Linked DNA regions of Homo sapiens. The protein of the gene in region 1 interacts with the protein of each later gene in a pairwise test. Each region holds a gene or a part of one and is shown in the gene's direction. Other genes may lie near its edges.

Region 1 (3,923 bases):
CACATACAAACCATACCAGGACCCATGTAAAATTAAGAAACTTTCCAGCCCACAGACCACTAGTTAAAGATTAGATTTAGGCTAAGTAGAAATACTCCTGCATATAGGCATAGAGCTTGAAATTCATTTATATATACTAAAGGAAAAACTCATAACTTTTAGTTGGTCTGGTAAATTACTCCGACCTTCTCCCTGTGGCTGGTTACAAAAATAAACTCGCTTCTTTCCCAGTTCACCTGTATCTCATCATTGGACCACGAGAGCAAGCAGCTGGACCCTGTTCCTCCGGCAACGGCATCAATCTTACCACCAACCTTGGCTCTTTGAGGGGCTTGGTATATTAATATCACTGGCATCAGTGGGAATATGTGGGAGAAATGGAAGCAGTACTGGTAGAGAAAGAAGGAGAAGTGGCAGGATTGAGGTGCATGGCAGGCATTCATGGTGTCTTTCATGTAGTTTATAAAGTAGTTTATAAAGTAGCAGAAAGATAAAGAAATGACAGTTACAACATGGTAACATAAAAATTAGTAAAATGTGACATAAATTAGATATTAATTTTGGTTTGGCATAGCAGAATGCTCTGTCTGCATAATTTTATTAGATCTTCATTACAATACCACACCCTCAGATGAGGACAAATAAAGCCCCAACCTCTGGCCTTACATCTTAAGGTGTGTTTTCTCAAAATTTTCTGGGTTCCACTTTGGTGGTGGGAATGGCTGGAGCCAGCAGTACCACGTGGCCGGGGAGCCCTGAGCTGGTCCTGTGCCCATATGGACTCCGCTTTCTATTTCACCCCTTCATGGTTCTTTCTTACCCTCTTCCTTGCATGTCGGGCCCACTCGATGCCCCAAAGAACTCCAGGACTTCTGCTCACAAATGAAGTTGTCCTGAGGTCCTGTGGCTGAACCCTGGATCCAGAAAGACAGCCTTGGAAACAAATTACTACTCCTGTAGCCAGTACCTTACAATTACGTATTTTTGAATGATTTTATCGGATTTGATTGCCAAAGAATCTTGCAAAAACAATTTTTTCCCCAAGCTACACACCTTATGGTTGGTTGTGTTATTTATGTTCCCATTTTAGATGAGAGGACCAATATCCTAGATTAAAAATGTCAAATCCAAGATTACACAAACAGTGAAAATTGAATCCCAGGTTTTTCAAAAGACACTCTGATTTTAGATCTTAAGCCTATTATTCTATCCAAAGGCTCAGAGAAGACATGCTCTGAACATACTCAAAGTAACTGACACTGGAAAAGGTAACAGAGGTGTGAAAATCTTACCATAGTAGATGTGTGAGTGGGCTGGGGGCAGGTGAATTCCAGAGAAATGTGGCACTAAATGTCATGAAGCTGACTCTGTATTATACCAGAGTGGCCTCCAGATTGCTTTCACAACTGGGTAGTTCATCAGCTAATGTGATTCTCCAAACTTTAAATGATTAGAAAACTGGGGAAAAATGTAGAAAACCAGAGGAAAACACTCCTTCTAATCCAAATATAAATTCTTCACTTCTTTTCAATGTTCTTCCAGGAGAAGGATTCGTTGGGCTCTTTGCCTTCTGCTTTTATTTCTGTGCAAGGGTTTATGCAAGAGGTACTTGAGAATGCTGTACTGTAGAGCTTTGTTTCTCATGGGAACACACGGGGAAGTGGAAAACCCTCCAAATTGTTTGGTGAGAAAACATAACATTTATCCCTTTCTTTGGTGGGGTGAGTCAAGTGGTAGGGACTAGAATTCAGGTCCTCAATGGGCATATAAATATGTGTGTGCAAAAGCAGCCATCACACTTTGTATGGCAAGTGGAACCACTGGCTTGGTGGATTTTGCTAGATTTTTCTGATTTTTAAACTCCTGAAAAATATCCCAGATAACTGTCATGAAGCTGGTAACTATCTTCCTGCTGGTGACCATCAGCCTTTGTAGTTACTCTGGTAAGTAACTGGAATACATCTGGAATATGTGACATTTCTTTACTTTTCTGTTAATAAGAGCACAACTAGTAAGCCTTGCCTCACTGACAGTGGAATATGGTGGTAGGAATTGTATTTTTTTTTATTTTACTTTTAACTGACACATAATAATTGCACATATTTGCAGGGTTGGAAGAAGTTTTGGAATCACAGAAAATGGTGATGTTGGAAAGTATTTCAGATCCCCACCATCTAAGCTCTAGCCCAATATAAGTATTCTAATACATCCTACATAGGAAGTTAGCCAACTTCCACGGAGGGTCAACAAAGCACATTTCACTGCTGGATATTGGTCACCATTCGTTTTTCTTATTTTCCTCAATTTTGAGTTAAAATTTGACTTTATAATTTCTTTTGTGCTTTTGAACTATATGGAGTCATTCTTGCTATCATCTCCAGTTATCCAATTTGCTAGCTTGGTTCTCCTGAGATAGCTACATTCATCTGTTTATCCACTCAATGGATATTTATTGAATGGCTACAATTTGTTGGGCACTGGATAGGCATTGGAAGATTTAGACATGAAGCAGTCATAAATATTGTTCTTAAGGTGCTACTCTGGTAGGATAGATAGGGCTTCTGCCTAAGTTACTATAATTCTAGACTACTGTAAACGTACTGTGAGATATCCAGATAGAACTCTTTTAGTGTATTGGTGGGTGATTAGTTTAATTTTCAGGTAAGGGTATAGAAGCTGGCTTCTTGGAGGAGAATGGGAACTGATTTATTTTTTTGGAAGGAATCATTGTAACTATCAGGAAGACAGTGTGGGCACATGGGAAAAAGAGATTTCATGATAGCCACTGCTCATTGAGAGAACAGAAGGCTTTGAAGATCTTCTCCCAGGAAGCTGTAAACACATACAGAGAAGATATTTACCAAAATGTCTGAAATAAGAAGTATGGAGATTAATAATGAAAAATTGATTGCCGCCCACACCTACAATGGCAACTTTGGCTTTTGATGTTTATTGAATTTCTGAAGGAATTTGTAACTTCACCAGTTTTGGATATTTCACTGTTCTCTAATGTCCAGGGACAGGTATCTATGGGCAAAGTGGCAGCAGAAAGGAGGTGGGGAAAATAAATACCGCCCCCTCTGGGTGAGAATTTTGGAGGGACAATAGGTGATTGAAAATTTAAAAAAATATATACAGGCTCCATTTTAATAATTTGAATGGGGAAATAATAGGTTTCCAAAGGAAAATAAACTATGGCAGGTCTTAGCCAGTAGGAGGATGTGTGTTCTTACGTGTGTGCTCACATGCATGTGTGCATTTATATATCTGCACATGTTTTTGTAAAAAATACATCGTACATATTTTCCTCAATCTCTACTTTTTCCCACCATTCATCTTCTACGGGAAAGTTATCTTCCTAAAGCCAAAGATATAAAACGTAATTTTCCTATGTAAAAGCCTTGATAGCGCCCCACTGCCCTCAGGAAAAAAAAATCCAAACTCCTTTGTGTGACATCCAACACTTTAAAAAATCTGACCTCACTCAACTTTTGCAGCCTCACTCCCTTTATCTTCCATCCTTTGGTCATAGCCTATTGGAAATCTGCACTCCAGCCTTCTGGGCAGAAGGCTCACCATCCTGTGTATGCACTTTTATCCTAATGGTTCCGTGCCTTTATTGGTCATGTTTCTAAAATGCTTCTCCTCTTCTTTACCTTATGATCCTGACATTTGCCTCAAGACATAGCTCTAACAGCACTTCTGGAAAATTCCTGCAGCACTCTTTCATGTTAGAATTAGTCATCCCTTTCTTGTGTTTCCATGGAGCTTTGTCCATAATGTTAGCATAGCACATGCTACACTGTGGCATACACAGATCTTCTATCACCAACTGGACTGTGTGAAGTCTCTGAATGGGCATCCTTGTCTTATTTGTCTATGTATCTGCACAGACTAGATAGAGTTGGTGCTCAATTATGTTT
Region 2 (3,923 bases), on another chromosome or scaffold:
ACCAGAGCCTCAGGTTTGGGATGGGAAACTGGCATTCCTCTACTGCAAACCTCTGGATTGGAACCCCTGGATTAAACCAGAATTAAATCAGTCTATAGATTGAGGCAGAGAGTCTGGATTCAAATTCTGGTGTAGCTCTTTATAACCACACAATTTAAGGCAAGTTGCAAGTTATGAGTGTTGAGCAATGTATGCAAATGTTTAGCACAGTGTCTGGCATTAACAGTAAATCCTGGATAGGAATTAATGCTTGCACAAGCCATTACTCTGTGTGGAAGTTCAGAGAAGTAAGTCAACCAAGGTCACACAGAAAGTTAATGAAAGAGTTGAATTTGGGACCCAAGTCTCTCTGGTCTCTAGCCAGAGGTGAAGTGACTACACTTGACATCCACTAAGTGCTTCCTTTAAGAACAGGGATCCTCAATAATTAGCCCATGACATTTTCTAATAAGTCCCCTCCCCACACCCATGAGAATCAAAGATGAGCTGACCAGGCAGAGGCAGAGGGAGAGCAGGGAGCTCTGCCAGGCTAAGTGAGCGGGTTCCTTTGCCTAGGGGACTGCCCTCCAGTGGGCAAATCCCCTGTGTCCTCAATTATCTGGTCCTGTCTACCCCCCAGACTCTAGCTGGAGCCATCACTTCCTCATTTCCAATTTTCCTCTTTAAATTTTTCTGTCCTGGCTTCTGCTGCTTGTCCTCTGGCGGAACCAGTGACTTCCTGAATGTTGAAATTGTGGGCGCCACGGGGGACCTCTGCTTTTCAGGGCACTGCTAGGAGCTCACTTTCCTGAGTTTCATCCCCTTTCACTTTCTGACATACCACGGGCCAAAGAAAGTGACTTCGCCTGGCACAGCTTCACTTCCTGCCACCTGTCTTCCTCACCTCTTACATTTCAAATAGGCCAAAAGTCTACGGCTCCCCTGCTCCAGGCTGTCCCACCTCTGAGAGGCTGCACCTGCCCTCCTTCCTCCCTGGAGGGCCTTTGCCTCATCTTGATCTGGATCAATCCCCCATTATCCTTTTAAGCCCAGCTCTGGTATCTGATATCTCTTGATTCAGATGATAAAGCTATTTGTCATATTTCTGCCCTGTCTCCCCTGCCTCCCGGCACTTCTGTCTTTTCAGGGACATCAACCTTTGCCGCACTTCACAGCAATTTTCTGGAATGTAGTTGTAGCCGCAACCATCTTGCATGGTAGACTGTGAATATCTTTCATGAAAAAAGGCCATTTCTTCATCTCCTCGGTGCCCAGCAGGCTCACAATGTCTCTAATGATAATAACAACAACATGACCATAGTGTTTATTACCTAATACTTCCATCCTAGCCACCTTATATGATTTAATTCATTTAAGGCTCACGAAATTCATATCTTCCTTATTTATACAAACAGAAGAGTGAGATGCTCAAAGCTCAAGTGATTTGCCTACTGCCAGACAGCCCCTATGTGGAAGAGGTGGAATTTGAAGCCAGGCATTCTAGCTCTTAGTGTCTGTGTCTTAACCACCATGCTATACAGCATCCCTGGTAGAGATGCCTGACGGGAGGGAGAGAGGGGAGAAGCTACTTTCCTTAAGGAGCTCAGATCTCACTGGGGCCTGGACAAGGACACCTGTAACACATGTACACATGTGCACACATGTGTACACACACAGAGAGAGAACATGGGAAAACTACAAGAAGAAATACTAAGTGCTAAAATGTGTGGTTCAGAGCAAGGCTTCTCAAACTGTAATGTGTATATAAATCACCTGGGGATCTAGTTAAACTGTAGATTTGGATTTGATCTGATGGGGTGGGACCAGAGACTCATTGTTAGAACAAGTGAACTTGCATTTCTAACAAGTTCTCAGGTGATACTAATACTGCTGGTCCATGGACCACACTTTGAGCAGCAAGGATGAACTCTAAAGGTTGAGGCAGGTCAGAGAAGGGAGATTTCACTGTGGGCTGGAGAGGTCCTGGGACAGAGAGCTGAGTCTGGGCCCATGGCAGGGCTTGGTTGGCCCTCTCTGGAGCCATCCAGCTTTTGGGTCTCAGGGACCTGGGAGTGACGGGTGCATTCAGAGGCCCGTAACTTGTGTCCCAAAGCCTCCTCGATCCCCCTTAACAAGCAGCAGCACTGTGTGGGAGATCCACATGTGAATAGCCCGTGTTTGAGAAATGTCCAATCCTGATCATGTCAGGAAACATCCTGCAAATTCTGAAATCAGAGCCAAAGGGAAGTGCTGCGAGGTTTACAACCAGCTGCAGTGGTTCGATGGGAAGGATCTTTCTCCAAGTGGTTCCTCTTGAGGGGAGCATTTCTGCTGGCTCCAGGACTTTGGCCATCTATAAAGCTTGGCAATGAGAAATAAGAAAATTCTCAAGGAGGACGAGCTCTTGAGTGAGACCCAACAAGCTGCTTTTCACCAAATTGCAATGGAGCCTTTCGAAATCAATGGTAAAGTACGATTCCCCAATAATGGAAATGACCAGAAATGTAGTCTTTCTGCTAGCGAGATACGAAAATAGACAAGTCAATAGAAAGTCTAGGTTTGGCTTATTGCTGCATTTTGCACGTAATCATCACTAATACTGTCTGGAGTGCTTCAATTTGGAATTTCTGGAATGCTAATAATAGATGCTGTATTTTTAGCATATAGTCAGGTTTTTCTTAGCTTCACTATTGTTTTAATCATATTTAAATATTTTCCCTTGAAAAAATGCCAATGCTTATTAAATGTCCCCTTTTTTTAATGAATGTCTTATTCTGACACACAGGTTGGGTGATACAATGAAAACGCAAAACAGGGGCACTGAAAGGGGACCACAAAACTGAAGCCAAGCATGACAGTTTTCAAAACACAGCTTCTTTAAAATTCTTTAAGGGGATTTCTGTTATAACTGATGTGCTGGTCAGGAAACATATTCTGTATTTCATGTTGACTGAAATATGTTCATAGCTTCATAATTAGTTTGTCTTAGGTTAAACTCAGGTCTGTAATATTCAGTCAACTCTGTTGTCTTTATTTTCTCACTCAGCATTCAACAGGTGATGCATTTTTAAAATCTTCTAGAATTTGTAGCATTTGAAGTCATGGGTGGGCTTGCATTCCACAAATGAGCTCTGATTTCCTAGTCTAGAACGTTCTCTTGGGATCATCTTCCAAGTTGATCAGTCATTTCCACTCCCAGGCTTTGCTGGAAGTTGTCTATGCAGGAAAATTGGTGGCTTTATCTCCTGGCCAGAGTGTCCTTCTCATCCCACACCTGTCTGCCCAGGTCCCTGCCTGGAATTTTCAGCGCACAAAGATGAAGCGTCTGGGGCTCTGCCTCTAGGAATTTACAGTGTAATAACAGAGAAAGGTGTGAGTGCTAATGGCTATAATAATCATTGGCTATTTAGAACTTCTCAGAATGCAACATTCTGGATACATGACTGTTTAAGAGACTGAAGATGTTCAAGCAAAGTCAGCTGATCAAGCATACTCAGCACCTATTTCCAGCAGGGCACTGCACTCAGCACTGAGGAAACAGGCTTGAATAAACATAGCCTCTGGCCTCTGGCTTCTGGCACGAGGGGACAGGGGACAGGGTAAGCTGCCCATGAACTGACAATTTCCATGTTGTGACTGAGACTTCCACAGGACATGATGGACAGATCTAACCAGGTGTAGAGCCCTGGAGGGCAGAGCTGACACCTCTTCCAAAGTTTAAAGGATAAAGGGAGTCCGTTAGAGAAAGAAGTTAGTGCCTGGGGCGGGGTGGGCGCCACATGTTTGTATTGTATTCACAAGAAATATTCAGAGAAATATAAATACTTCCATACTGTTTGGCCAAAATTGGGACGGAAAGACCAGTGGGGACTGAGGCTGGAACCAAAAAATTTGACTTCATCCTGAGGTCAGTGGGGAAGCAGGAAGGGGCCGATGTGGGGCTG

Evidence for each region.
Region 2: the proteins of SCGB3A2 (region 1) and MARCO come close enough for resonance energy transfer, tested with the Homo sapiens proteins (one study listed by BioGRID).

Annotation. Positions count from the first base shown.
Region 1 is NC_000005.10:147,876,916-147,880,838, forward strand, and holds the start of SCGB3A2 (secretoglobin family 3A member 2 precursor), read left to right. Parts: upstream 1-1,795; 5' UTR 1,796-1,888; coding exon 1,889-1,943; intron 1,944-3,923.
Region 2 is NC_000002.12:118,939,954-118,943,876, forward strand, and holds the start of MARCO (macrophage receptor MARCO), read left to right. Parts: upstream 1-2,240; 5' UTR 2,241-2,347; coding exon 2,348-2,444; intron 2,445-3,923. UniProt on the Homo sapiens protein: Pattern recognition receptor (PRR) which binds Gram-positive and Gram-negative bacteria. Also plays a role in binding of unopsonized particles by alveolar macrophages. Binds to the secretoglobin SCGB3A2.